Linked DNA regions of Homo sapiens: all the other regions are linked to region 1. The links come from fine-mapping of genetic effects on gene expression. A gene starts in region 1. Each other region holds a variant in brackets. All regions are shown on one strand. Distances are between the middles of the regions.

Region 1 (4,065 bases):
TCCAAGGTGCCCACCCAGAGCACCCTCGCCAAGTGTCTGAAAGCCCAGCGGCAGCCTGGCTCCTTCCCTCACCAACTCATTCATTCATTGCCTGACCCCATTTCCCAAGCTGGTGACCACGGCTGGTCAGGACTCGCTTCTAAAGGGCGCGGGGTCTGGCTTCCTCACCAGCAGCCACAGGGCACAGCTCCCGGACCAGCCGGCAGCCCCTCCCAAGGAGGAGGTTATTCTGGAGACAAAGGCAGCGCCCTGAGGTAGGCGGCTGCCTCCTCCCGCACCACACTCCCTGCCCGGCCTCTTCCATGGGGGGCGGCCCTCTGGGGCCCCTGAACCTCTCTACACCATGCCTTGGGCTCACGGCTCCCTTGGGGGTGGGCACCTGCCAGCCCCCACTCACCAGTCCGGGTTCTCCGCCGCTTTGGGGCTGAGCCTGGTGTCGCTGTTCACATTGAACAGGACGTCCTCCTCCGTGAGCGGCGGAACCGCCACCCGGTAAAGCGGGTGCTCGAACAGCCTGGCCAGGAGGGAGGCGTCTCCGCCGGGGCCGGGGGGCGACTCGGACCGACGCGGGCCGGGGTCTCGCAGCAGCGGCCGGTGCGCGGGGTCGTGGGGTCTTAGGGCGCCGGGATCCCGCCCCCGCAAGGCGCGCTCGGCCGGCTCGGCCGCGGGCGGCAGTTTCTCCAGCGAGTGGGACGAGAGGTTGGAGGAGGGGTCGGAGCTGAAGTCCTGCAGGATGCGGAGCGTGTGCTTGTTGGGCCAGCCCGCGTCGCCGGCGGCGGAGGAGGCGGCCGGGGGCTCCCCGGGGCGGCCCCGAACCTGGGCCCAGCCGGGCGCGGCCACCTCGGCGGCGGGCTGCGCGCACGAACAGCCGGGCTCCCCCGAGGGCCGCGCGCCGCGTCGCTCCAGCCTGGGCAGCAGGTCCAGGGCGATGTGCAGCGCGCAGGCCACCAGGAACACCATCAGGATGAGCACGCGGAACCGGCGCACCAGCATCATCTTCATGGCCGCGCGGGCCGGCCCGGGCCTGGAGCGCGTTCTGCCCGCGCGCCCCTCTAGCTGCAGCTGGGCACGAGCGCGGCGCCGCCTCGCGGGTCAAGGTCCATCGGTGCCGGGCGGCTACCAGCTCCGGGGCTGTCCCCGGGCCCGGGCCGCGTGCAGGGCGCCCGCCGCCGGAGCGCTGGGTCCCCGCGCCATCTCGGGCCCGTCCCCGCTCGGCCTCTCCGGAGCGGCCGCGCCCTCAGCCGGGGAGCCCAGGGGTCCTGGTCCGCGGAGCCGGGCGCGCGGGGGGCGGCTGGGGCCGCAGCAGGGGGAGGCTCGGCGCTCGCAGCCGCCGGCGCGGGGCTCATCGGGCGTGTGGGTCCATCCCGGCCGGGGCGCGACGGGCCTGGGCGGTGGCGGCGGCCGCAGGCGTCCCGATCCTCAGCGCGCTCCTCTCCAGGCGCCGGGCGGGCGGGCGGGGAAGGGGCGGCTCCTCCGGGCCGGGCTCTGCTCTCACGCCGCGCCCGGGAGACCGGGGCTGGGGGGAAGGGGGGGGCGAAGGGCGGAAGGGGTGGGCGCGGGGAGCGGCCGGCGGGGTCCCGGGCAGGTGCAGCGGCCGCCCCGAGCGCAGCTCCCGCCTGGCCGAGCCTCTCGGCGCCCCGCGTCCCGGGCGGGCAGATATCGAGCGCCGCGGAGCCGCCCCCCGCGTCAGCGCCCACAGATTGGCGGAGCCGCCGCCCCACGAGTCACGGCTGGGCCCGGGCCGGCTGCGCTCCCGCTCTCCTTCCTCCTCCCCTCGGCCGCGCCCCGCGACGCCTCTGAGCTCCGGGCCCGCTAAGGAGAGGGCTCCTCCTGCCCGCGGTTTGCAGAGGGAAGCGGCGGAGACCGGGAGGGCGCGCTCGGTTCTGGCCAGGCCAGCAGCTGCGGCCGAGTGGGGGGCTCCGGCCTGGCCGCTTCCTGGGACCCCCTCCCGCCCGGGGCCGCCGCCGCCAGCTGCAGCCTCTCGGCTCCTCCCCAGAGGAGCGCGGGGCCGGGGCCCAGGCCAAGTCCCTCCCCGGAGCCGCGGGGCGTCTGCGCCGCCGGATGAGCTCCCCGCCGGGCGGCGACCCCGTGCCCCACGCCCGTCTCGGCAAGGAGGAGGCGGAGGCGGCCCCGCGAGAGAGGCCCAAGGAGCGACTGGGCCTGGACCCAGGGGACGCCAGGGCAGCGGAGCTCCCGGCACCGGTCCCGTCCCCCCCCCCCCGCCCACCCGCGGGACGCGCCCGCCTTAACCCTCCAGGCGCCGGGCCCGCTGGGGGCGCTGAGAGGGGCTGGTGTGCCGGGGGCGCCTTCCTGCTTGGGGCCGACGGGGGTGTGTGAGTGCAGGCGTGTGCGTGTGTGTGCGCATGTGTGTGTGTGGATGTGCGTGTGCGTGTGTATGCCTGTGTGTGTTTGTGTGTGCGTCTGTGTGCATGTGTGTGTGCACATGCATGTGTGTTCACGTGAGTGCATCTCATCTGTCACCCACAACCAGGGGAGCGGTGCTTGTACAACCAGCTGGTGGCTTCTGCAACCAGCAGCTTCTGGCCGTGCAGCTCCCTGTAGGGAATATGAGTTAATCTGGATGTCAGCCTAAGATGTAGTCAGGGAGGTAAGTGTGTGGGAGGAGGCCACATCCCCTGTGCCTCAAGCCGGCTGCTTCCACAGTGCCCAGACTGCCTGGGCCAGCAGCCTCGCCAGCAAGCCCAGGCGGGTGGGCCGGGAGCAGGGCCTGGGCCCCCCCTCTTACTTTCACCGGCTGGCTGTGTTACCAGGGCCCTCTCCGCCCTCTCTGAGCCTCAGTTTCCTCTGATGTGAATTAAGGGCGTTGAGCCCATTGTTCCTGAGGAATCACTCATCTCTGAGCCTGGCCCATTGCCTGGCATTCCGTGGGCACCCACTAGATACTTATAAGGGGAGAAGTTGTTCCAGTCCGGCTGGCCAGTGGAATCCATGCGTCTTGGGCCATTTGAAGTGAGTGAAGGGCTGGGTGCGGCCCACCTGGAGCTGGACTGGAGGCTGTGTTGGGTGGGGCGGTGTGACCTGGAGGTGGGCTGCCCCCTCAGGAGACAGCTTCACCCCTGTGAGTGGACCTCATCCTTCCTTCCTTCCACTCACATGGACAGCACATCTGTGTGTAGACAGGGTCACTGAGAGAGGCCAAGGAGGGTGAGGAGGAAGATCCCGGGTGTGGGGGGAGTCCTGGGGGAGCAGACAGCAGGGACAGAAGCCTGTGGCAGGAAGGAAGGTCTTGGCCTGTGTTCTCCCAGCAAGGGTCCCCTTGGACTTGGAGTTCTATAGGCTCCTGGCCCCCCCATCTCTCCCGTGGTCTACAGGACCTCGACGCAGAGCTGTGGCTAGTGTCTTGGGGCAGACATGGGGCTGAGCAGACCCCATGGAACACTATTATCCGGTGTGGGGGGCCTCATGGAGGTTCCCTGGGCACTTACTTTCACTTGCCTCCTGCCCCCAACTCCTCTCCCCTCCCATCCTCACCCCCAGAGTGGTTTTTGGGAGCCCGGCAGCTATCTGGACCCGTGTGCACCCCTGGACGCCTCCCTCCCTCGCAGAGGGTCCTGGTTCATCTCGTCTGTTGCCTCTTAGAACAGTGGCCTCTACCTCGCCAGGTCCTTCAGAAGCGCCCCCCTCCCTGCCCCGCCACTGTTTTCCCAACAGCACCCGCCGTGGTCTGAGGACACTTTCTTCTGCTCCTGTTTATTGTTTATCTCCCCCAAGCACAAGCAGTCGAGTTAAGACAGGAGCCTCGTTCAAAGTTCCGCCCGGGGCCAGGCACAGCGCAGGCTCTCAGAGGAGGGCCCAGGAGTCCACAGGCTGCGGCGGCGCGAGACAAAAGTCGGAAGACAGGACCCCGCTGAGGAGTGAGGAGACAGCGGCCAACCCTCCGCCAGACCCTTCCGCCTGGTGCCTTTACTGGGCTCTGAGGAGGAATTTGGTGGTTCAGTCGGCCCATCCGTGGACACCATAAAAACAAAGAGAAAACAGACACACACAGATGCACACATAGATACACACAGATACACACAGACACGGATATATAGACACACACAG
Region 2 (4,065 bases), 150 kb after region 1:
TGTGAAAGCTTCAGAGAAGTTTTGCAATAATCAATCATTTTTACTCAGGGTTTCCTGAAATTTCCTGATTATAGAAATCAATTTTTAAAATATTTTTTGTAGAATGATACTAACATTCCTCAAAATACTGGTGATCCAATAAACGTGGATCATGGCTACTGTGGATTCAGTGTCAGAGACAAGGAAACCAGGGCTTCTGAGGCAGAATTCACTAGGTTCACCTTGGGAGTCGACTGCAGAGTGAAATGAACCAGAGGGCACCCTTGCCCACTCTTACGTCTGGGCCTTTATGTCCCCACCTTTTCTCTGTTTTTACTGGTGTCTGCACACTGTATTTGTGTGGCGTGTCAAGGCACAAATGTACAGGGAATGTCAAATCAGAAAAGTTCACTCTCTGCCTTGGCAGCTCTCATCTGCAGGAGTGTGTGTGCACGGGGGTAGTGGTGCAGCCAGTGAGCACAGCACATTCAGCTGGCAGCACCCCGAGATGAGGATGAAGTGACTGGGAAGGTCACAGGAGAGGAGGGCTGCAGGTCCCGGGTTCTTCATGGAGGACAAGGTGTTTGTATGGGGTCCTGGAGGAGAGGCACGAGGACCTCTGCTTTATCCTAGCTTGCAGCAGGCTAGAAACACCCAACAGATAACTCCCCAAAAGGGAATAACATGGGACAACTTTGCCCCTTTGACCCTACAAATAGGTTTTATTTCCAGTACGATGAGCAAGCACGCTGAACTGTCTTGCAGTTGCCCAATGGGTTCTTCCCACCCACTGTACAGACAAAACCAATTCACCGAGACTGTGGTACTGCACTAAAGAAACAGTTTAATTGATGCAGCTAGCCACGTGGGAGAAGGAGCTGCTACTCAAATCAGTCTCCCAGAAGAACGGGAGGTTTGGGTTTTTCAAGGATTGTTTGGTGGGCAGAGGACCAGGGAGTGGGTGCGGTTGATTGTTTAGGGATGCAGTCATAGGGTGTAGAAAACGATCCTGTCACGGAGTCTGCCTCTGGGTGGGGAGGTGGGAGTGCATAGGACCAGTTGAGTCATGAGCCATGGGTCTGGGTAGGGTCAGTCGGTTGGCAGAATGCAAAAATCTGGAAAACAGCTGAAAAAACCAAACTCAGGCTCTACAATAGTGTTGTTATCTACAGAAGCAATTGGAGAAGTCACAAATTGTGTGACTTCTAGCCATATGACTTCTGAACAATAAGGAATTACGGAAACTATGTCTACATTTTAGCAGAGTTCGGGCTCCTCCCGAAATCCTAATCACGTGGCCTTTCATTCGTTTTTGGTCCTCAAGGAAGGAGGGCTTTAGTTTTAGAGAGGGACTAGTATTGTTTTATAACTAAATTTCTCCCCGGATTAGTTTAGCCTGTGCCCAAGCATGAGCAGGACAGCCTGCCTGTGAGGCTAGAGGTAAGGTGGAGTCAGTCATGCGTGACCTCCCTCGCTGTCATAAGCTTTGCAAAGGTGGTTGCAGTCTTTCTCTGGTCAGAACACATGGTGCAGCCATCTGAGATCTTTGCAAATGGACAGTAGCAAGAGAAGTGGAGAAAGAGGCCAGAGTGTGGTGAGTTCCACCTCACTGAAGGCCAGCAAGGGGCGTGGATTGGCAGGATAGTATCCAGTGTGGAACACAGGAGGAGCACCAGTGAAGGGAAACCAGGTCGGGAGCATCAGCCGTGGGAAATCATAGAGGGAATCCTTG[T/C]TCTCCTGCTGCTTCCTGGGGTCTGCAGTCTCCCTGTCCATCAGACGCTGGCCCTCCTCGTGGCTTGCTGACTGTGCTTTATGAAATTCATGCTCACATTTCCCCATATTTTCTGAAGCAGTGGTGAGTCTGGTTCTTGACTGGTTTTGTTTCCAGACGGGTCCCTTCTGTCTTTTTACTCCCCACTTCCAGTGGGCACGTGGGTTTCCCAGGGCCTCAGGCCTTCTGTCTGCTCTAGGGGAAGCTGGGGACGTCTGGACTGTCCTCATAGAAGCGGAGACGTTTTGCTGCACCTTAGGGAATGGGGAGCAGTGGGGAGTCTTATGGAATCCCTGGTCTCTACTCCACCCCCGAGCTCCTGCTGAGAGGCCTGCTGTGCCTGTGCCCTCCCTGGGGGTGGCACAGTCCAGGATCTCCCCACCTGGCATCCTCTGAGGTGGATGCTCCTGCCTCTGAGACAGGCAGCCCTCTGCTTGCTGGCTGCTCCCCAGCATCTGTTTCTGACTCACTGCGCAAAACGGACAGGAAAGTTGAGGGTCCCTGCCCAGTGTCTGTCTCCAGGCACAGAGTCTCAGCGCCAGCTCTCAAAACTCTGTCTGCTCACCTGGGCAGCTCCAGGAGGCGGGGGAGGAGTCAGGAGCACAGCAGCCCCTTGAAACTTCCCAGGATGGCTGGTTTGGGGGTTTATCACATTATTTTTCTCCCTCTGGTTTTAGCCACTGTAGGCCAGTTTGTTCACAGATTTTTACCAACTTTGGCTCATTTCATTACCTTATCAGAGGTGGGAATTCTGAGGTCCCTAAGCCAGAGGCTTTCAGGGATGTGGCTCCCTCTGCCGCCCTGGCAGGGAGGGCGCAGGAGCCCCAGGTGGAGCCTCTGACCTAGATCCTTTGGCTCTAGAGCCTGGAGCCTTACCACAAGGCTGCCTGTGGGTTTGGCGTCGGCCTGGAGCCCAGGCTGCTGGTTATCTGGAGACAGCCTCCCTGTAAGATTTCTCTGAGACAAGAAACAATTATGCAAATTATCCTAATTCTGTTTTAAAGAATAGAGAGATTGATTGCAGAGACAAACCATTTAGGCAGGCAATGTAGAAGGTGTTTCCATGGCTAATCTGCCTTCAAAGGAGAGGGATTTTGTTTGTAAACTTCAGACCCAGAAAATTGATTGTTCTGTCAACTTTAGATAATTATCTGTCCTCCCTGAGGCCCTAAGCTTAGCAGAAATGTTCTTTCTCTGAATCAGTACTCAGCTTTGGATCTCTGTTGGGTTCCCTGTAGAGTGCTAAATCAGATTCCCCCAAAGCAGTGGATCAGGAGCCTTCCTCCAGCCACAGTGCCCATCCTGCCTGCAGAAGAATGGACAGAGGGATGGGAGGGCTGCAGAGCTGGCACTGTGTCCCTGGAGGGGCTGGTGGGGACTCACTGTTCGGGGGACAGGGGAGGCAGAGTCCACACTCAACTGCTGCGTGGAGATGGGCATGAAGGGCAGGCAGGTCTGGCCTTGGCCTTGCGGTTTGTTTCCATTAAAGACCTTCAAGACCAGAAAGGACCAATAGGGCTGGACTATGCAGGGAGAGAAGAGGTTCTAGGGAACTGAGTTCCGAAGTCTTCGTCTTCTCACTGTGCAATGGGGTTCGCCTATAAAGCAGGCTGCTTGTCCTCGGGAGAGCTCATTGTGGAGAAACATCACTGGACAGAGCCCCTCCTTATCTGCATCAGACTCCTCTGGTCTCCCCGGTTGCCTTTTTCTCTGCCCCTAAGGGCACCTGTTCCTGGAGAGGCTCTCAGGACAGTATCCTGGACACCCCCTGCCTGGACACCCCTTGCCTGGCACCCCTCCTCTCCACAATGTCATCAGAGAGCTCCACCTGCCCTTCTAGCCCCCTGGTCCAGCACTGCTGGTCATGAGGTTTGGGCCCTGTGACCTGCCCAGATCCAAGCTGTGGGGAAAGTTTGCTGAGACCAGTTTGGGGAACAGAGGGGCCTTGTTGTACCATTTGTTCTGGGCACAGGGGACCTCCTGCATCGTCTATCTCCTCCATGAGATGCTAGTTTCAGGGATTCCTTGGGGACACTGGAGAGCAGGGCTGGCTCAGGCAGGGGCCTGACCATAGTCCAGACAGTGCAGACCCTACCTGAGGTGCCACATGGGCCCTCATCAGTCTTCTCTTCACACAGTGGAGTCACTCCTGTGCCTCCCCTGTCTGCACTCCATTGAGCCGGGAAAGGCCTGCAGTAGCCAATGCCCACATTTGAGTTTCAAATGTGAATATACCCAGGGATTGCAATTTACCAAAAGACGAAGGAAAAGGCCTCTCCCAGTACTTGGTCAACATTATTCTGTGGTATTTTTCA
Region 3 (4,065 bases), 51 kb after region 1:
GCCACTGCCCTCACGTGCGTCCTGCCCACGCTATGCTCACACGTGTCACACGCCTGGCCTTCCACGCACGAGTGCTCCCACATGCTGAGAATTAGCCTGTTCTGTGAAGGGCCACCCGTTCTCGTCCGTCCTCCTGCGGTCGGACACTTGATGTAATCAGGGTTTGGAGACGTTATCAATAAGGCTGATAGACATTCTTTTACAGACACGATTTTTATTTCTCTTGGGTAAACACCCGGGAGTGTGGTCGCTGGGCAGTCGGGAGAGTGGCTGTTCCGTTTTGCACTCCCAGCAGTAGGGAACGAGAGTTCTAGTCACTGTGCGTCCTTCCCAACGTGCAGTTGCCAGCCTGTCTCTTTCTAAAGGCATATTGCTAGTGGGTATGAAATATACCGAATTTCTTTTTATTTTAAGCTCAATTCCTTTACGTGTTTTCTTCCTAGTCCCCAGAGTGGCTTCTGTCCCCGAACATAGGTATGAATGGTGCTGAGCACTGGACCACAGGGTGAGCTCCGGTGGGAGGGTTTTGGCAGGCCATGGAGATGAGTACTTGAATTAGGCCCAGATTGCAGAGTCAGGAATTGCTGGGTACAGCCTGTCTGCATTTTGTTTTGGCTTCAAACTTTACAACATTCATTTTAAGTTCTGAGGCCTTAGGTCCTAAGAAAATGTATTATCTGGAACAAATGCAATTGCCAAAGTCTACAATGACTTTGCTTTGTGCCAGACCTCCTGGAATATGCCCATTCCTGGTTCACAGATGTCTGTCAGGCCTGCCCAGGGACCAGGTCCCATGCTGTGGACTCTGACCCCATGCACGGAGCAGTGGAGGCTGCCTGCTCGGCCTGGCTGGCGTCTGCCCCAGAACCGTATCAGACGCCTGCTGTACATGCAAACACAGCGCCCTTGGCTCTTGGCAGGCCAGTCTCCGCTAATCACAGACAAACCTCTAGTCCAGATTGAGGAACATGTGGTACCACTCTCATCTTCCACACCCAGCACAGACCTCAGTGACTGATTGCGGCTGGTGCTGCTGTGAGCATGGACGCAAGCTCTGCTTCCAACAGCAAACTTCAGAAACCCACTTCCAACAGGGAAGGCTCGCCCCCGACAGGAACACAACCTCAGAAACCCACTTCCAATGGGGAAGGCTCACCCCCAACAGGAAGACAACCTCAGAAACCCACGTCCAATGGGGAAGGCTCATCCCCGACAGGAACACAATCTCAGAAACACACTTCCAATGGGGAAGGCTCGCCCCCGACAGGAACACAACCTCAGAAACCCACTTCCAACGGGGAAGGCTCACCCCCGACAGGAAGACAACCTCAGAAACCCATATGTCCAATAGGGAAGGCTCATCCCCGACAGGAACACAACCTCGGAAACCCACCTCCAACGGGGAAGGCTCACCCCCGACAGGAACACAACCTCAGAAACCCACTTCCAACATGGAAGGCTCACCCCCAACGGGAACACAACTTCAGAAACCCACTTCCAACATGGAAGGCTCACCCCCGACAGGAACACAACCTCAGAAACCCACTTCCAACATGGAAGGCTCACCCCCAACGGGAACACAACTTCAGAAACCCACTTCCAACATGGAAGGCTGACCCCCAATGGGAACACAACCTCAGAAACCCACGTCCAACAGGGAAGGCTCGCCCCCGACAGGAACACATTTCTATCTCCAGGCTGATGAATACTGAGACAAAATGCAGCACAGTCCTCCACACGTCCCTTTTGCTTTGGAGGTGGTGGAGTGACGCCCTTGATAACCAGCCTGTGCTGCCTGAGTGGCCCTTTGAGTTCGGGTCACAGTGTCAGGCACCAGCTCCTTCCACTCAGCTGTGCAGACTTGCAGTGGGTGCGTCTGTGACAAGCATTCTGCCCACCACCTGAAATTGATCAAGTCTTTCCTGCATATTCCAAGTCTTTTCTCTGTTGATGGAAAAACCAAACTCTGTAAAATATTTTAAAGAGGTTTCTTCTGAGCCAGTGAGTGACACAGCCAGACAGACACGGTCCCAGCGAGTCCTGAGAACGTGTGCCTGAGGAGATCGGATTGCAGTTTGGTTTTGACATCTCAGGGAGGCAGGAGTTATAGGCAAAGACATACAGCCATGCATGGCAGGTCCACACTGGCTCGGCCTTTGGAGGTGGGACACCTTGAAGGGGGCTTACAGGATATAGATGGATCCAGAGATTCTTTGAGTTCCTGTTG[G/C]TGAGAGGAGCAAGGCTCTGTCTAAAACTTGGAACGTTTAAGTTAAGATCCTGCTACAGGATCTGTAGCCTACAGGTGCAGCCTCAGGTCCTGCTCAGCCTGCAGGTGGGACCCACCCCTGCCTTGTGCGGCCTCGGGTCCTGTTATAATTCGGTATCCTATTGCCACCAAGAGTCTGCTTTGTCAGTCTTAAGATCTCCGTTTTAACATTACTGCTGGTCAGTTGTGTCTAAACTCCCAAAGGGAGGGAGTATGACGAGGCATGTCTGACCCCCTTCCTGTCAGGGCCTGGAACTCAGCTTTTCAGGTTTCTCTGGGTCCCCTTGACCGAGAAGGGTCATTCAGTCAGTGGAGGGGGGGATTCAGGGTTATGCTTTTAGTTCACACCTCCAAAACAGGAGGCTACCTTTTAAAATGAAGTAATCACCAGTGACGTGAAAATCAGAGTTGACTTGAGAACCAGATGATGGGTGCTTCCAAAAGGCTCAGACCTTGGCCCCCAACCTGCCTCCCATGCTCAGCACTCAAAGACCTTGGCCCCCCCACCTGCTTCCCATGCTCAGCACTCAAAGACCTTGGCCCCCCACCTGCCTCCCATGCTCAGCACTCAAAGACCTTGGCCCCCCACCTGCCTCCCATGCTCAGCACTCAAAGACCTTGGCCCCCCACCTGCTTCCCATGCTCAGCACCCAAAGACCTTGGCCCCCCACCTGCCTCCCATGCTCAGCACTCAAAGACCTTGGCCCCCCACCTGCCTCCCATGCTCAGCACTCAAAGACCTTGGCCCCCCACCTGCCTCCCATGCTCAGCACTCAAAGAGAAGGAGGGCAGGAGGAGCCTGGCCACTCCTGAGCAGCCTGGGAGGCCTTTCTCTAGGAGATGGCCAGGCGTGCACGGTGGGGTGTGGGGGCACCTGCGAGGAGACCCGTGCAGGCCATGCCTGAGACGTGCGGAGGGATGGGGACAGGGCTGCCTGTCAGCCCACCAGGCTGCCAGAGCACCAGGGTTTGTCAAGGGCTTTCTGCCTTCCCTGGGGCTGGACACTCCCTCCAGGCTGCAGCTGAGTCGGGGGCACAGCCACAGTGAGTGCTCAGAATCCCCCTCCTCATGGACAGTGCTGGGCGCTCAGTCTCCTGCAGGAGTGCCCCAGCCTGAACTCATGCAGCAGGGCTGTCCATCAGATTCACCTGACCCCTAGTCATGCCCGAATCCCTGCAGGATGGAGGACCTGTGGGAGACTTCGCTCCAGCTGCAGTAAGTCAAGGTCAGCTAGGGCCACGAGGGCCCCACCGGCCAGTGTCCTGGCCGAGGCTCCCAGACACCAAGGCCGCCCAGGCCTCCAGAGCAGCAGCCAACTGCCCCTCATTCCCCGGCCTCACTCACAAATAGCCTTCACCCAGACAGCCTTCGCCCTGTGCACCGCGGCTGGGGCTGGAGGGGAGGCAATGGCCGTCTCCCGTGTGTGCACTGGACGCCCGGAATCTCAACAGCACTCACACTGGAACTTGAAGGTGCCCCGGGGAAACCCACGGAAGCACAGTGGTGCCTCTGGCTGCCTGGAGCCTACCCCAGTTCCTCCCTGGCAGTGAGAGAAAGCTGCAATCACCCATCAGCAGGCTTTATTACAGAAAAGGAAACGCAAATTGGGCCTCCGCTCCTGCTGGGAAGCATGGGAACATAAGGTGGGAGGAAGATGGAAGGGGGAACAAAGAGAAACACTGCAGACCGGCTGCAACCAGAGGCTGCAGGTGCAGGGCTGAAACTGAATCATCGCCATGCCAGCAGGAGTGGCCTGCCTGGAGTAACCCACCCTTCCAGGGAGCACAGGCTGGGTGCCC
Region 4 (4,065 bases), 140 kb after region 1:
ATTCGCATTTTATCCTGAAGACCTGAGAGTCTTTCAAACTTATAGAGGTTTTTTTAGTTAAAGAAGAGGAGAAAATGTAAAGAAAAAGGAAAGGATAGGAATAAAATAGACCTTGAAAACCCAATGGAAACAAACCAAATTTGGCTTCTGATAATATAATTTCATAATGCTTCATTGAAATATCATGTACTTACAGAAAAGTGCTCAGTAGATTTTGAAAAACCAAGCTCACCCTGTGGCCATTACCTGGACACTGGAGCAGGGTGTGAGCTGCCCGCAGTGCCTCTGTGGTCCCTCCAGCGTGGCCTCCTCCAGGGAAAACACTGTCCTTACCCCAGCAGCACAGACTAGTTTCTTCGTGGAATTTCTTTTTCCCAAGGACCACAAAGGAAGCAGGGAGGCAGGGAATGGGGGGCAGTTTCCCTTCTTAAAATAATGTGACTGGAGGGAAAGTGGATACAGGCGGGAACCCTCAGCAAGCTCCAAGGAGCCCCACCGCCATTCAGTATCCGTCACGGAGCAGCCACAGTGAGGCCAAAGTTGCAGCTCACATTAAGAACAATTAACAGTTTTACACCACTTTTCCACATTCTTTTTAAAAAATTACGTTCTTGCATTATTTTCCCCATATGGATTTTTAAACATGAGAGTGCCTAAGTCGATTGGACGGAAGTTCAATCTGGTCTTGATTACCTCTGACTTCGTGAGTTAATGAGCGCTAAGTAACTCACCTTTCCTTTAATCTGGAAGCAGTGGCCCTGCCTGTGGGGTGGGGGACACAGGCTGAGAGTGGACCACAGGCTCCGAATCACCTATTCTGGTGCATGTGTCCTACTCTCAGGCCACAGATCCACAGGGTCAGACTGAGCTGCGGGGAGTGTGGCCCCACCCTGTTTCCCTTAAAGCAGGTTACAGAGGATTGACCTAGTGGGGTCACAGAGAGCACCGTGAGCCTGAGACCCAGGCTCTGGTCCTACCTTATCACGAACTCACTGTGGGCCTCAGCCTGGCCAGACCTCTCTCAGGGTCTCTGTTTCTGCATCTGTATAATGAGGCCCCATCTGTAGTGTTAGATGGAAACTGAGTAAGGACTAGAGGGGTTGGGGGTGATTCACCAACTCTTTACCCCTCAACAGAGCAGAAGGACAGCTTCCAGAGTGTGCTTCCAGAGGGCCCTGGGCGTGTTGAGTCCTAAGAGGAAGGAACCCCCATCATCATGGTACATGCTGTGTAACCCCACAGCCTGGCTCACTGTGTCCACTGGAACCCACGTCCTTGGGGTCAGAAACCTGGAAACAGCCACTCTGTTCACAGAGAAGCAACCTTTCAGTGTTTTCCTTTCCCCTTACCACAGGGATGGCCGTGTTAGAATTACACTCCTCTACACCAGCCAGGTGAGTTACTGCAGGCTTATGACTTCATAGGTCACCTGGCATGCATTTGTAACAAAATCTTTGATGTGATAAAGCAACAGACTCCATTGCAAAAAACATTAGCAATCTCTCCTCACTAAGTCACAACTTTGATAAAGTGTTTTCTATTCAAAAAACTTAGTGCAATTATGGTGCAGAGCTGAGATCTCAGCACAATTTCATTTACAATCAACCTGGCATCTCCAATGCACTAATTGAAGCATTATCACTATTGTCTTCCGTATGAAATATGCGCAAAGTATATTTCTTTCCCTTTATCCCCCCAGTAAATAGCATATTCTGGACATGTAGCATTTCAATGAATGTGGCAGTAGGCCACGGGGACCACTGACCCTCACACCTGAGAGGACACTGAGGCCCTTGGAGGTGGAGAGACTGCCCAATGCACACAGCTCATGTCAGTGCCTCTGTGATGGCTTTCCCCCCAGGTGACTGTCACCCCAACATTTTACTGACACACACAGAGTTCCTGGCTCTGTCCTCCCACCAGCAAACTTTGTGCATAGCCAGAGTCTCCTCCCGCCTGCTGCACTTGGGGTTTAT[A/G]GAGAGCACTTAGGCCTGCAGGAGCTAAGATTGCACAACTGCACTCCAGGCTGGGGAACAGAGTGAAACTTCATTAAAAAAAAAATCCACAGCTAAGTTGATGCAAAAGCAGCATCTAAATCATAGACTAGAAAAAGCAGCCACCACATGTGACAGTGAAGCTTCAGAAACTGCCTTTGGGAGGTAGGAGCAAGGCAAAGATATGCCCTTTCTATGTACCCTTTCTATGCAACCTCGGGTAGAGTTACCGGCTTGTGCAATAATGCAAGAAAATGAACTAAATGTGGAACAATGGGTCAGGAATAAAAGGAAACCATCATTCTTTATTGACCCTATAAAAATCTACATTTTAAAAGGTCATAACAAATAAGAGAGTTCAACTGGACACAAGACTAGTAAACAAAACTATCAGCAGTACCCAATTCATAATTATAAAAAGCAATTTCATTTGACATCAACAAAAGTTATCAGTTACCTAGGAATACATCAACTAAGACAAGGGTAATAACTTTATGAAAAAATAAAGATATCAGTGAAGAATATTTTTAAAGATGTCTATAAATGGGGAGGTGTGGTGAGACCTGCATGGTAAAGCGATGAAGTCTCCCCAAGTGAGGTGATGAATTTGATGCAGTTCCCACCAAGCACACACCCATGGGGACACGTTCACCTGCATCTGTTTACGTGTTTTTTAAAACTTGACTGGCTGACTCCAAAAACAATACAGGACAATAATAACCAAGATACTTTTAAAGGAGAAAAAGTAAGTCGAGGATACATTACACCAGATATAAGCACACCATATAAATCCATTGCAATTACAGCCACATGATATCTTGGTAGAAGAGAAAAATAGACCAAAGGAAAAGAGTACAGAGCACCAAAGAAGACCCTCTTCTGTGTTGAAACTTAGTCTATTAGAAAACAAATAAAGTGCCCAATCGTTTGGGCAATTGGCTCTTCATTTTGAAAAAAGATACCTTTAGATCTATACCTCAAGACATACACAAAGGTTATTTTCAGGTGGACTGAGAAACTTTATAAATATAGCAAGACTCTTTAGATGAAAATATAAGAAAATATATTTTGAATACATTTTGTGGATTTCGCAAAATACATAGAAAAATCACATGATCAAAAGATTAATAAAATTGACTAAAATTTAATAATAAATATATCTATAATAATTTTTTAAAAAATAATAATAAAATCTAAACTTTCCCTTCCACAAATGATATGGAGACTAGGATAAGGTATTTGTAAAACATCTTGTGAACTAAAGATTTCTATTGAGAGTACTTAAAGGTTTTTAAGTGGTGCTGGCTCCCCTCTTAGGGGACTCTTAGTTCAAACAGGTTTCCTCTCATGGCTGAAGTGTTGAGTGCCTTTTCCACTCCCGTTCTCTCACAAGTGTGCAGAGGCAACTGACGTGTGATGTCACTGCAGACTGAATACAGAATTCCACATGGGAAACTTGTTTCCCAGGAGCCAGGCAGCAGGAGCATTCACACATCTAAACAATGCTACTCCTGTCACCAGTTTCTAAAGAAAATATAGTTATTTTCGTAACATGTTATGTTATGAACATAACATAATCCTTGATGTTCATTAGCATAATGGATTCATTATGAGTTTTCACTAATTGGTTACTTAATGTGATGGTTACTATTGTCAACTTGATTGGATTGAAAGATGCAGAGTATTGTTCCTGGGTGCGTCCGTGAGAGTGTTGCCAAGGGAGATTCACATTTGAGTCAGTGGACCTGGGAGAGGCAGACCCACCCTCAATCTGGGTGGGCATCATCTCATCAGTTGCCAGTGTGGCTGGGATAAAAGCAGGCAGAGAAATGCGGAAGGACGAGACTGGCTGAGTCTTCCGGCCTTCATCTTTCTCCCACGCTGGATGCCTCCTGCCCTTGAATACCGGACTCCAAGTTCTTCAGTTTTGGACTCTTGGATTTACACCAGTGGTTTGCCAGGGGCTCTCGGGCCTTTGGCCCCAGACTGAAGGCTGCACTGTCGGCTTCCCTACTTTTGAGGTTTTGGGACTCAGACTGGCTTCCTTGTTCCTCGGCTTGCAGCCTACTGT
Region 5 (4,065 bases), 45 kb after region 1:
TATATTTTAGTGAATGATATTAATATATGTTCCAAAGTTGTATGGGATTTCTAAAATTCTAATTTTTCTGAGTATATGCTACCGATCATAATTATGGTTATGTTGTTGTTATAACCAAATTTCTTTGTCAATTGTGTCTTTTTGAGTATTTAAAGTCATTTCCGCAGTTAATTGCTTCATGCTGATGTAGTTTCTGAAAACTTCACAAGCACACAAAAATCCTAGAACATGGTGTCTTTTAGGAGGTTCGTGAACGGATGGGGAGGACCCTGAAAAGCACTGTGGAATACAGGTTTCTAGTAACTTCAAAATCACATCATTTGGACTGGGTAAGAATTGCTGAAACTTTAATGAAAAGACTGACTGGCTTATAAAACTGCTAACCCAAATAGAATAAAAATTAATTGAATACCGAGGAAATGCTTCACCAGGTTTGCATACTTAATCAGCCTATACTGAAATTGTTTAGATATACAATTTGAATGAACTCCATGGTCTAAGTCAAATTACCTGTGATAACCCATCAGTTATCCATGCTATGTGCCCAATTTGGAGAAACAACTGGCACCCAAGAGGACATAAGTCCGATGTTAAGCATGGACTCATGGAGAACCAAGATGGCTGCCTTGTCCTTCGTGAGTCCTTAAAGCTTTTGTTATTAAAAGTTATGCATTCCATGACTCATCCTGGAAAAGATAAAATGATCCAAATTAAATATGTTGGTGTGGTGACTTACAGATTGTTAAAATAGTTTATAAACAATGTTTAGTTTGTCAAACCCATACTCCTGGGAAGTCAATCAAAGCTTCATGTACATTTGGCTACCTGATGAGGCATTTAAACATTTATAAAGGGGTTTCATTCAGTTGTCATTTTCAATGTATGTGTTCTGGTTGTACTAAAGCTTTCCCATGCAGGAGGGCTAATGTTATAACAGTAGATTACTATGTATCAGTGTATTTTCACCAGGTAAAGAGCTTTTTATGGTTCACTGAGGACAATCAACCCCTTCACAATCTAGAACCCAAAGATGGGATCTTCTGAGAACATCAGAGAAACGCTGCCCTTGGCATCATCACTGCAACAAAACATCAGGATCTTGAACCTTGGGGTCATAATCTCACAACTGAGCAGGGTCACTCTTGGAACTCTACATCCATTGAAACCCTTAAGGTAAAGCTAATCAGGGAAGTTTCTCCCCAGAAGAAGATGGCATCCTTGATGTGAGCAGCTCTTTCTGAAGATCATGGATCAAGACTTCTTACTATCATGAGACTCTTATCTTTGAATGTTTTTCCGTTGCTTCCGCCTCTGTGAACAACAGAAGTGAGAAGGGGGTCTGTTTTGTGCACTTATGGGGTATACTTTTATTTGTGAAGGGCTTTGCAGCCAGCTTTATACATGGATAATCTTATAACTTGATAGATAAAGATGAAGGCCCAGTGTATCATAGGTGAGAAACTTCAATGGTACATATGGTGCCTCATAATCATTCAGAAGCAGAACATTGGTTCACTCCTCTTAACCCACAGCATGGGTTAAAGAGACCATTGCCAAGAGGCCTTCCCTCTTCTAGAAGGGCATCATTTGTTAGGTCCTTTTTCCATGGTTTGGAATTAAAAAGGCAATGACTAGAAACATATCCCTCATGGTAGACTCTGTAGCAGATTCTACTGTAAAGGCTACACAACAGATGTTAAATTCTCTTGTGAAAGTTATGCTAAAAAATAGAATTGGCTAAACAGGAAAGTACCTGTGCAGATGCTGGCACTTAAGGCCTATGGAGAAAACATCAGGTGTTATAGAGAGTCTGTTGTAGGGAATTAACGAAAAGACCACTGAGTTAAGTCAAAGAATGGTCTATTTGAGTTTAGGTGGTCTGGTTTATGGGGACCCTGGCTAAGGAGCATACTCCAAATTCTTGGTGTTAACCCTCTCAGTAGTCATAAGAATAGTCTCCCTGGTGCACTGTATTCTCTCAAAGGTTTTAAATGTTTGCATGAAGCCATCTTTAGAACGTCAGATGGTCTCTCTTCAACTGGAATGACAAGAGCTGAAAGAAATGTGTGACCACGAGGACACCGAAACCGATGAGTGACATGCTGAGACTGGAAATCCAAAATGATAGTAACGGAGAGTGGCGCTAACATCCTAAGTTTTGGTCACACTCTTGCCTAAGTGACAACCTGACAAAGGGGGAATTTTTTAAACAAAATGATGGGAGGCCATTGTTTTGGACTGAGCACTAGGTCCCAACAGACCAAACCGAACCAAAATGGCATCATTCGTGCTAAATGTGACATAATCGAATTAAGACTTTAAGGAAACACATGGGTCCTAGAATAGACCAGGTTTTGTTTTTCTCTTGCAAACAGGACTTTCCAGCATAAGGTGGTATCCTCAACTCAGTCCTTGTTCCTACCTTTGCAAAACTCACTGTTCTGCTTCCTAGTGGGTTTCAAGACC[A/C]ATGGTGACAGTGACATCAATAACTCAAGTTTCGATCAATCTCTCAAAACTGATAAAATGACCAAAAAGGGGGAATTGTTAAAGCGAACTAAATATGGCCTGAGAAGGACTCCGTACTTCTGTATTGGAGTCCCTGTGAACAAACTGAGCCTAACTTAATAGGTAGACAAGATTGAAAACCTAAATTAGGAGTATGTACCTGTCACAATTGCTGAGTCTCGGCCAGTCCCAGCAGCCGTACTTCAATCACTCATACACTGCTGAATGTTCAAACTGTGTGTAAATAAGGCAAATGCCAACCTGTAACTAATCCAGGTGTTTCTCTACCTCACTTCCCTTTTTTTGTCTATAAATCTTCCACCACGTGGCTGCACTGGAGTCTCTCTGAATCTGCTGTAATTCTGGGGGCTGCCCGATGTGCAAATCATTCATTGCTCAATTAAACTCCTTTAAATTTAATTCAGCTGAAGTTTTCTTTTAACAAGAGTGAGATAAGAATCTGTGTTCTTATCCCCCAGAATGGACAAATCAGTAGCGTTCCTTGTCATTCTTTTGTGGCTGGTTTCACGTAAATATTTTGTGTGTATGATAATAGAATTTGATTTTAATGAATATACTTTAAAAGCAACTTTTTTTTTATTCTTCCTCACCATCGAAGATGGAGAAAAATAAGAAGGGCTGTCTTGCGGTTCCATTTCTTTTGTGGATAGTAAGAAGCGCTGTCTTCTGGTTCCGTTTTTTTTTTCTGGATAGTAAGGATGTTTATCTTACTCTGTCTTCATTGTCCTCAAACCTCAAGTAGTCACTAATACCCTGGCTATGACAGCTTTTATCGTAGTGTTAAATGGCAGATTTATTTACTTGGCAAACATTGTCAAGTCTCAGAAAAATTACCCCATGGTCTTGCCTTCTTCCCTCGTGAATTGCCTTCCACTGATGGAGAGGATTTGATCTGTTCCCTGCTCATCAATTTTTCTAGCTTCTTTGGGATGTCCGCTCTGCATATCTACTAAGGAATTAAGAAATAATGGCTTCAGCAAGAAACAAGGCAGGAAAGTGCAGTGACATGAGGACCATACAGGGAAGGAGCTGTCCCCAAAGGTGAGAATGGCCCTGGACAAGGGTTCTTGCTGTGACTTCACTCAGACCAGACCACCTTGACCTTTTCATCACCGTGCCTCAGCGAAGTCAGTCGTTGATTCTCTGATCGGTTACTGAGATCATCATGAAATCTCCCTCGTACGAGAGTTGCAGAACTCTGCAGTGTCAATCATAGTGTTTGGGAGAGAGGACTTTCTACCTCCATCCTTTTTCTGAACCTAAATGGAATGAAAATTAGAACTGTTGCTTATTCTTTGAGGTAATTTCAAATTCCCTTATCCAAACCAGTGTTACAAAAGGACTCCAGTTTGCCCCCCAAATCGGTCTATTAAGAATGTAATGATGAATTTTCATCCAAATCCCACAATATGAGCTTTTCTAAAATAACTCTAGAAACAAATATGACAATATTCCAAAATTCCTGCCCTCAGACCTTATTTTGTATTAGAGTTATCTGTGTATCCATTTTGTATCCCCTGAAGCACGATGAGCCACTTG
Region 6 (4,065 bases), 110 kb after region 1:
TGGCCATGGCCCTGGCAGGCTCCTCTGTTTTCCTGTCCATGAGCCCCTGCAAGAGGCCTTCTCTGTTCCAGTCCCTCGGCATCCCGCTCTCCTGGCTTCTCTGGGTGAGGAGTGAGGAAGGGTCACAGAGGGTCCTGCCTGCCCGTCAGTACCTCAGGGCCTGCTTGGAGGTGTGTGGGGCCCTTGTCCTCGTCCTTGGGTCTGTGACTCCAGATCTGAGGCCTGTTGGCCGGCCCTGCACCAGAGCTGCCTGCCTCGCTCCTGTGAGGAGGGACCCAGCGGCCCCCAGACAGGGGCAGAGGACAAGGTCGTCCTAATGCTGGGAGACGAAAGCCCCTTGGCGCTGTCCTGCGCCCGCAAGCCCTGCCACCCCAGTTTCCCTCTCGCTCTGCAGACGATGCCCTTGGCCTCATGCCCCAGTGCGTGTGGTGGAAGAGACGCACAGCGCAGCCTTGGGAGCCTGCCGGAGGCCCCCTGAAGGCTCAGCCTGCTGCTCTGACCCCCACACCAGCTGGAGTCCAAGTTTCCAGGAAGACTTCATCTCCCTTGCCCCTCGTCTGGTTCTCGGAGAGCTGGATGGGGCTTTCGCTCAGCAGCACGGGCACAGCTCCACTTCCAAAATGTGAGGGGCAGGGGCCCAGGTGTTGGATGCCTTCAGAGCCCTGGAGCCCCGGGAGGGGCTCTCAAGCCCACCTGCCTGAGTCGGGCATCAGGCAGGGAGAGTGCTGGGGCCTCCGCCCCTGCTGGCCCAGTGATGAAAACCAAGCATGAAGGGTGGGTGTTCATTGGTTACTTGCTGTGTGTGGCCTCTAAACATGCACCATTCCCTTTAATTTTCACAGGCTTCATGGGATGGTATTAGTGTTGCCACCGGACAGGCTGGCCCTGTGGAAGGAACATGGGCGTGGGCAGTTCCTGGCCTCTGGTCTTGACTCCTGACTCGGTTCCACCCCCTTGGGATGCTTGGCCCAATTCGTGGCTCAGAGCCCGGCTCTATCTATTTAATGGGAGCTGCACTTGAGGAGGGCCAGGGAATCATCTGGGCCAGCAGAGGCAGAGGCCCCCGCACGCTCCCTGCCCGATGCCCGACTCAGGCAGGTGGTGAAGGCATCCGAGACCTGAGCCCCTGCCCCTCACACTTTGAAAGTGGAGCTGCGCCCCTGTTGCTGAGCAGAAGCCCCACGCATGCAGGGGTGGGTTGGGAGGGGCCCCTGCCAGAGCCTCTCTCTACGCCGGCCTGGCTGTGGCATGTTCTCTCCAGATTTCCTCCAGGAGACGGCCCTGGTCCCTTGCCACAATAGAAATTATGCCCCATAATTTTCTGTTGTAAAACTTGATCTTTTTCTGCAAGCAAGTCATTAAAACTTCAGCTCTTGCACGCTCCATGTCCCATGAATGCCCAGGCCTTAGCACAGCTTCCGCAGTGCCAGAAGTTCCGTCAATCATGTTGAGTGATTGTAAATCACTCAATCAGTGGATGTAAATATGTGTACAAGAAGAAAGGAAGGAGTGGGGACACGGCCCCTTCCCCACAAGCCTCTCTCAAAAACCCGAACCTAACAGAATACAGGGGTGGAAACATGAACCTTTTCTCCATCTTCTGACCCTTAAGGACAGAGAGAAGCAGCAGGTTGTGATGTCAGTAGGAACTTGCAGACCAGGACAGCTGAGCGCTCACCGACGGCTCGCAGGACACCCTCAGTCACCGCCGCGCCCATCAGAAGAAACAGCAGGAACCAGACATTGCTCTGCCTGCAGAAATCACATCTGAAAATCAACTCTGCTTTGCTCCA[A/G]GCGACGGAGCTTTTTCATAAGTATAAAAAACAGCTAACTGGATAAAAACACCTTTCCTGGGGACCTGAGTGCTGCAATTCAAAGGGGCTGGCAGTGTGAGGCTGGAGAAGGGCTCCTGCAAGGCTCTTAGCTGGGCAGGCCGAGGGAGGCCCCTCTCGGTGAGCACGAAATCAGGGATGCCCCGGGCCGGTTAGGGATGGGGCCTGGACACCGTGAGATTTCCAGCAGGCTACACCTGGGGCTGCAGCCGGGGCAGCCCCCACAGAATACTCAGAGGCAGCGGGAAGTGCGGGCTGGTGACGAGAGTGGGAACACTGCCCCACACGCAGCCGCCTCGGTGCCACCTGGCGGACAAGCCGCCCCTGTCCCCCGCTTGGCCTCTCCACATGGCACATTTGCCCCTGGCAGTGCCCAGCCCCAGGTCCGGGTGACTGGGGACAAAGAATACCGATGGAAAAACAAGCTAACGAGCTCCTCCTAGGGAAGAGGCCCGCGCCAGGGAGGAGGCGGCCGTCTGGGCGGAGCTTCCCGATAGCCAGGCCCGGGCGGTGCCAGGACACTCACCTCAGGTCTCACCTGCAGAGCATCCACGAGTCACTCACGCTGGGCCAGGCACAGGCTGTGCACACAGAGGGCAGATCCAGACCACACGAGAGCATAGGTGCCCACGGGTGTGCAGGGATTGTGGGGGGAAAGGAGTGTGTGCTTGTGTGCCTGTAGGCGTGGGTGAGTGTAGGTGTGCCTGTGGGAGGGCGAGACCATGAGTGTGAGGGTGCGCGTGTGCCTGTGGGAGGGTGTGTGGGTGTGGGTGTGCGTGGGAGGGTGTGATTCTCTGTGGCTATGCCTGATTGTGTGTACATGTGGGTGCACATGCTGCACGTCTGTGCTGCAGGAACCCATAGGGCCAACCTTAGGTCCTAATTCTGGGCTGACCGTGTGCCGTCCCCCACGGGCCCCTGCATCCTCAGTTCCTCATCTGTGCTGTGGGCAGAAGCTGGGCTGCCCCACACTCCAACATCCCTAGAAGGGAAGGGATGGGGGCAGGGCTGGCTGCAGGGACAGCCTCGCCCACAGCAGACACGGAGGCCGCAGGGTCATGCCCTGGATGGATGTCACCCAGGAAAGGTTTTGCCTCCTCCAGTCTTTTAAATCAGGCTCCAGGGGCTACGATTACAGCCCTGGGCTTTCTCCCACCCCTCAGCCTCCCTCCTTAGTAGCTCCACAGCAGCTCCCTCCCGAGAGCACACCACCCCTGCACGCTCGGAGCTGCATCCTCCAGCCCCTCATTCCCCGCTCATCTACTCCGACCCAGCTAGGGATCCGGCTTCCCTCTTAGGGCCATTTCTCCTTTGCCAGCATTTTCTCTTTTTCCCTTCTGTCATGCTCTGCTACGTCCTCATGCAAAATTAAGCCCAAAACGGTTTCAGTTACTCCCAACCCTGAGACGAGTTTTAAAATAGTGACAGGATGAACATTGCACCTCCCATGTGAGGGCTGTAAGGGACTGGCAGTTCCAAATGCATCTTCCACTCGCAAAGTTGCTAACACAAATCCCATGGGGAAAAGGGAACTGCTGACCTTTCAGCGTGCAGATCTTCCCTTTGATGGGTTTGCTTGCCTTCAGAAGAGCCCAGGAAAGCTCTGCACAGAGGCCTGTGTGTTTCCGCCCCTCCTGTAGGAAATGAACGGGTGCGTCTTCTCCGTTGCCTTTATTGATCAAGGCCAAAATCACAAGTATAAATTACCACGGTGGGAAACGAGCTGCTCTGATGAGAGGCAGGTGGAGGAGGCTGCCTCGTCAATAATGCATCTGATCAGAAAGAAGGGGCTGATCAGAGGGAGGCCGGGCTCTTTGAAGGTTCTGGTTTTCCCATGGAAAGCTCCACCAGCTCTCTGCCTGCCGAGTTCCTGCTCTTGCCCAGACGGGAAGTGCGAGTAGCTTTCATATCAGACCTGCCGCTCACCGCACCGAACTGATTCCATGGACACTGACATTTGTCTCTGCAGCAGGGATGGCCGCCCTGGCCCAGGCTCCTGTCGCTGTGGATGCCTCTGTCTGGCACAGACTTTCGGTGTTAGAGCCCCAGGTGAAGGTCTGAAGCAAGAAGGAAAAGGACACAGAATCCCATCCCTTCTGAACCTGCGGGGTGCAGCTGCCCTGAGATCCTGTAGCATTTCACTGGGAGCCGACAGGGATGGTTTGCGCGCTGCCGGGATGCGTGAACAGGGGAGTCCATGAGGCCCCAGGGCTGACTCAGGGCACGTGCAGTT
Region 7 (4,065 bases), 120 kb after region 1:
GGACACTGGCCTTCTCCAAGCTGGCGGCTAATAAGGTCCTATGAATGTTGTTAGCTGTTGACTGTGGACCACATAATTTCTCAGAGATTCTGCACCTCTTTGGAGCACTAGCTGGGCGCTGCCTAGAGGAACTTTCTGATGGTGGAAATGTCAACTGATGGTTAGATGTTCAGGGGCACCCCATCCACCAGGCGAGCTCAAAGCAAATGTCCTTCTGGAGTGAGTGCATGGGTCCAGGAAGGCCAGGCGTGTCGTTGTGTAGGGCCATGAGTCCACGAGGAAATGAGGTGCCAGTCCCCCTGCTCCTCACAGGGATGGACCAGGACTCACTTCCGACCAGTTAATTAATGGACTTGAGACTTGTGACCCACCTGAGGACCAAGTCCTCGCAGGACACTGGGTAGAATGGTAAAGACAAGCAGTGGCATGACCTCTAATGCCAGAGTAAGAACGTGTGCCCCATGCCCACCCAGGTCGCTAGGCCTTTACTGCAGCCGAGGCACTGCCTCTGTCTGGTCTTGGGTGCTGAGAGGCCGGGACCTGCTGCGGCCTGTTGGATGCAGCTCATGCTCCCTCCCGAGTCCGTGGCAGAGAGCAGTAGGGGCTCAGGGCAGCAGAAGGCCCAGGGAGAGGAGGGGGTCCTCCCTGTCCAGGTGAGAGCCTTTGACCATACCAAGAGCCGGGGTGCCCAGTTGTCCTTCAGCACTGGGCCTTCCAGCAGGCCAAGGGAGACAGTATCAGAACCTCATCATAGGCTGTTTAAGGCTTAAGTGAGGTTGACAGGTGAAATGCTGAGAACAGTGGCCCCTTGCAAGCGTTTTATGGAGGTAGTGTATTCTCTGTGTGGATGCAGGTGGGGAGAAGTGGAAGGAAGGACGCACGAGAGCCAGCCTGCGACACCTAAGGACAGAAACACCTCCCTCAGCCCAGCCGGCTGCTGACTCCATGCGAAGAGGGACACCAACCCTTACAATCTCACAGTGTCCTGCCCCTGCCCCTGCCCCTGTGAGGTGGGAATCATTATGCTTATTTCACAGACGCAGAAACTCAGAGGGCTTAAGGGTGATTGAAGTTTGCTCCAGGCCTGGACTCGAATCTGTGTCTTTGCTTCCTAGGGCGATGCTCCTTCCATCAAAACCAGAGTGTCCCAGCTCTAGATTCCCCACCCAATCTCCTGTGGCTGTCTCAGCACCTCCGTCGTGAATCCGTGCATCCCTTCAGACGACTGCCTTCCGATGCGGCCCCTGACCTGCCCCCCCTCCCATCACTGAATAGGACTCCTTTTCTCCTGGATTTCCTGTAGGAAGTTTCAAAATGCTCTCCAGGTTTTCTGTGGGTGGATTATCTCTCTGGATCTTTCTAAGTGAGTCCTGTGTTTCACCACAGCTCCCCCCACACAGTTGAGCAGCTATACCGTGGGGAGGCTTGGTCCTCTTGCCCCATTTGTGTGATGTCTATTGTAGTCATGCCAGGGGCCTGACGTCAGAGCTCCACCCTGACATGTGCTCATGCCGGTTTACAAACCCTCCCAGGACCAGGCCCCCATCCCTCTTCCAGGACAGGCTCTGGAGCTCCAGCTATTAACAGAAACATTCCAGCCAGCATCCCCAGCGACCCTCAGCCTCCCACGCCGCTGTGTCTTCATGACCACAGCCTGGCCACCACACAGCTCCCCCTCGAGGACTGTGACCACTTCCAGCCATGGTCTCTTTGGGCCATGCGGGATATATTCCCATTTCCCCATTCAGCTGGGAGATTTTACCAAGGGATTTTTCTCTCCTGGCTCCAATGCCAGCAAGACCATGAACAGCTGTGTCATTTTCACTTTCAAGCCTCAGCTTCTGTACATAAAAGAATACAGTTAATAATGATTTCCTCCTCCTGAGTTGCTATCGAATGAAATGAGGTTATGCACACACATGGCAAGGACCTGCGTCTGGCAGGAACAACATCTCGTTCATCGTCACGAGTGCTTCCCCTTGTGTCTTCCCTCCTGTGTGTGAGATGGGGGCTCCCAGGCCTCCCCAACAAAATACACTTTTCCAGCTTTTAGAGGCCAGCATTCCTAACTCCTTGCAATAAATCCCTATCATAGTACAAATGTAAACACATCACGGTATAACTCAAATCAACTGCCCCTGATTTTGCCATGTTTCAACCTTTTGTTGCCATCGGCCTCCTAAACAATGGCTTTAATGGAAACACAG[G/T]TATGTAAGCTTGGAAGCTGCTCAAACATCTCAGTCATTCAGAAATAAAACACTTGTTGAGCAGCTAGTCTGTGCCAGTTGTATTAGAGTTCTCCATAGAAACAGAACCAATAGGATGTACACAGAGAGAGGGATGAGCAGGGATTTTTCATGTGACTTGGCTCATGTGATTATGGAGGATGAGAAGTCCTGCTGCCATCTACAAGCTGGAGAACCAGGGAAGTTGCTGGTGTACGTCCCAGAGTCCAAAGGCCTGAGAACCCCGAGTTCTGATGTTTGGGGGCAGGAGAAGATGGATGTCTCAGATCCAGAATAAGGAAAGAATTCACCCTTCCTCTGCCTTTTTGTTCTATCTGGGCCCTCAGGCTTCGGGGAGCGTGGATTTTCCCACTCACTCCCCTGATTCAAATGCTGATCTCTTCTGGAAACGCCCTCTCAGGCGCACTTAGAAAGCATGTTTTATCAGCTATCTGGGTTTCCCTCAGCCTAGTCAAGTTGACACCTAAAATTAACCAACCACTAGGCAATGCACTACCTAGGAATACAGAGCCAAGGAGGGCGGGATCTTCCCAGGCCTCAAGGTCTCTCATCTGCTGAGCAGACAGGCATGAGGCAGACTCTCACAAGTAATGAGGTTGGTGGCAAGGACTACAAAAGAGAAAGACCTCTGCCAAATGCAAAGTTGCACTAAGTGCTAAGATAAACCCAAATCTGAACTGCAGAACTGTGGGCTGTGATGTTCACCCCCACCCAAGTGGCTATGTTGCCACATCGGCTGCAAACACACGTGAATTTGGGCTGGGTATCAGGAAATGAAGTCATTCTGGGAATGGAAATTTAAGTTTGTTTAGGGAACTGTGAAAATCTGCATTGGAAAACAGATACTGCGAGAGAACAGGTTCTGCAGACCAGCAAACAGTCCAGACACTGGATTTCTTCCCTGCTCGCTGTCTGGCCGCAGCCGGGGACAGACAGGCAGAGCGGGAGTGTGTCAGAAGGTGTTTTCTAGGGGAAAGAAGGAATAAAAGAAGACCCAGAGGAGATGCAGTGACATTGGGAGGTTCAATAATTTCCCTGCAGTTGAGGGCCCCTGGACCACTGTTTCCCCAGCAGAGACAAGGTGGTGGCTGGCATGGAGGGAGCTTCCTTAGAAGAACCCAGAACCCGTGTATTCCCCTGAGAAGCGTCATGAAACCTCTCAGATCTCTAATCCCTGCACTGCCCTGGAGCATCAAGGCCCAGCGCTGCTGTTGAATATTGTGAATGTGGTTTTTCCTGACTCACCATAGAGTCAATAATTTCCAGTTTAAACGAATTTGTTAAATATCCTTCCAGATTATGCCATTATCCAAGAAAGTCTTAGCTGGCTAAACTGGAGCAAGCAATTCTTTTAGGAATTTGGAGAGCAAGTTTATTGTGAGAATCTTGCAGCTGTGACAGACAAATGTCCACAGAGAGAAGAGACGCCTCTGAGAGGTAGTGAGCCTGATAACTGAGCACCGGGAGGGCTGCAGAGCCGGACGGCTCAGCCTCGGGATCCAGCCCAGCCTCTCCTTCCCTACAGTGAGCTCCTGCCAGACCGCAATACCCTCCAGCATTCCTGACATGAATCTGACCTGCGGGGAGGATCCGGGACAGACCCAGCGCAGTGGAGCATCTCGGATGCCATGAGTTTCCCGGTAAGCAGCACCCAGGGGCAGCACCAGGGGGAGCAGCTTCTCAAGCTCCCAAGGGAGCATGTGGGTCGACGAACAGCAGCCTCCTCTGACTTCTTCCTGGTGATCTGGGGAAGGAGGAGGCAGCGTCGGCGCTTGGCCGCATTGATATATGACACCTTGTCCCTCCTTTTCATGGCCCC

Evidence for each region. PIP is the estimated chance that this variant, and not a neighbour inherited with it, causes the effect. A credible set is the group of variants that fine-mapping cannot tell apart.
Region 2: its variant is the best candidate, but not a certain one, in a credible set for the expression of FAM20C in whole blood (TOPMed, PIP 0.75).
Region 3: its variant is the best candidate, but not a certain one, in a credible set for the expression of FAM20C in monocytes (TOPMed, PIP 0.65).
Region 4: its variant is the best candidate, but not a certain one, in a credible set for the expression of FAM20C in whole blood (TOPMed, PIP 0.87).
Region 5: its variant is the best candidate, but not a certain one, in a credible set for the expression of FAM20C in whole blood (GTEx, PIP 0.50).
Region 6: its variant is the best candidate, but not a certain one, in a credible set for the expression of FAM20C in whole blood (TOPMed, PIP 0.69).
Region 7: its variant is the best candidate, but not a certain one, in a credible set for the expression of FAM20C in lung (TOPMed, PIP 0.79).

Annotation. Positions count from the first base shown.
Region 1 is chr7:190,137-194,201 of GRCh38, reverse strand. It overlaps FAM20C (FAM20C golgi associated secretory pathway kinase), which reads right to left and starts at 1,631. Exons shown (of 10, transcript NM_020223.4): 1 at 398-1,631. The coding sequence starts at 1,002.
Region 2 is chr7:39,068-43,132 of GRCh38, reverse strand. No RefSeq gene overlaps it. Among named protein-coding and RNA genes, the nearest start is that of FAM157D, 5.6 kb to the right of the region's middle. RefSeq lists an enhancer at 1,692-2,635. The variant T/C (reference allele first, on the strand shown) is at 1,712.
Region 3 is chr7:139,225-143,289 of GRCh38, reverse strand. No RefSeq gene overlaps it. Among named protein-coding and RNA genes, the nearest start is that of LINC03015, 8.2 kb to the left of the region's middle. RefSeq lists an enhancer at 3,433-4,065. The variant G/C (reference allele first, on the strand shown) is at 2,228.
Region 4 is chr7:51,632-55,696 of GRCh38, reverse strand. No RefSeq gene overlaps it. Among named protein-coding and RNA genes, the nearest start is that of FAM157D, 18 kb to the right of the region's middle. The variant A/G (reference allele first, on the strand shown) is at 1,977.
Region 5 is chr7:144,796-148,860 of GRCh38, reverse strand. LINC03015 (long intergenic non-protein coding RNA 3015) reads left to right here. Exons shown (of 3, transcript NR_134325.1): 2 at 243-329; 3 at 4,050-4,065. Among named protein-coding and RNA genes, the nearest start is that of LINC03015, 2.6 kb to the left of the region's middle. The variant A/C (reference allele first, on the strand shown) is at 2,467.
Region 6 is chr7:80,602-84,666 of GRCh38, reverse strand. All of the region lies in intron 1 of LOC105375113 (a long non-coding RNA gene), which reads left to right. It overlaps LOC101929756 (a long non-coding RNA gene), which reads right to left. Exons shown (of 3, transcript NR_187733.1): 2 at 3,373-4,065; 3 at 1,318-1,752. Among named protein-coding and RNA genes, the nearest start is that of FAM157D, 47 kb to the right of the region's middle. RefSeq lists enhancers at 1-300, 1,594-2,364, 2,365-3,137. The variant A/G (reference allele first, on the strand shown) is at 1,794.
Region 7 is chr7:68,622-72,686 of GRCh38, reverse strand. LOC105375113 (a long non-coding RNA gene) reads left to right here. Exons shown (of 3, transcript NR_187847.1): 3 at 1,116-2,270. Among named protein-coding and RNA genes, the nearest start is that of FAM157D, 35 kb to the right of the region's middle. The variant G/T (reference allele first, on the strand shown) is at 2,208.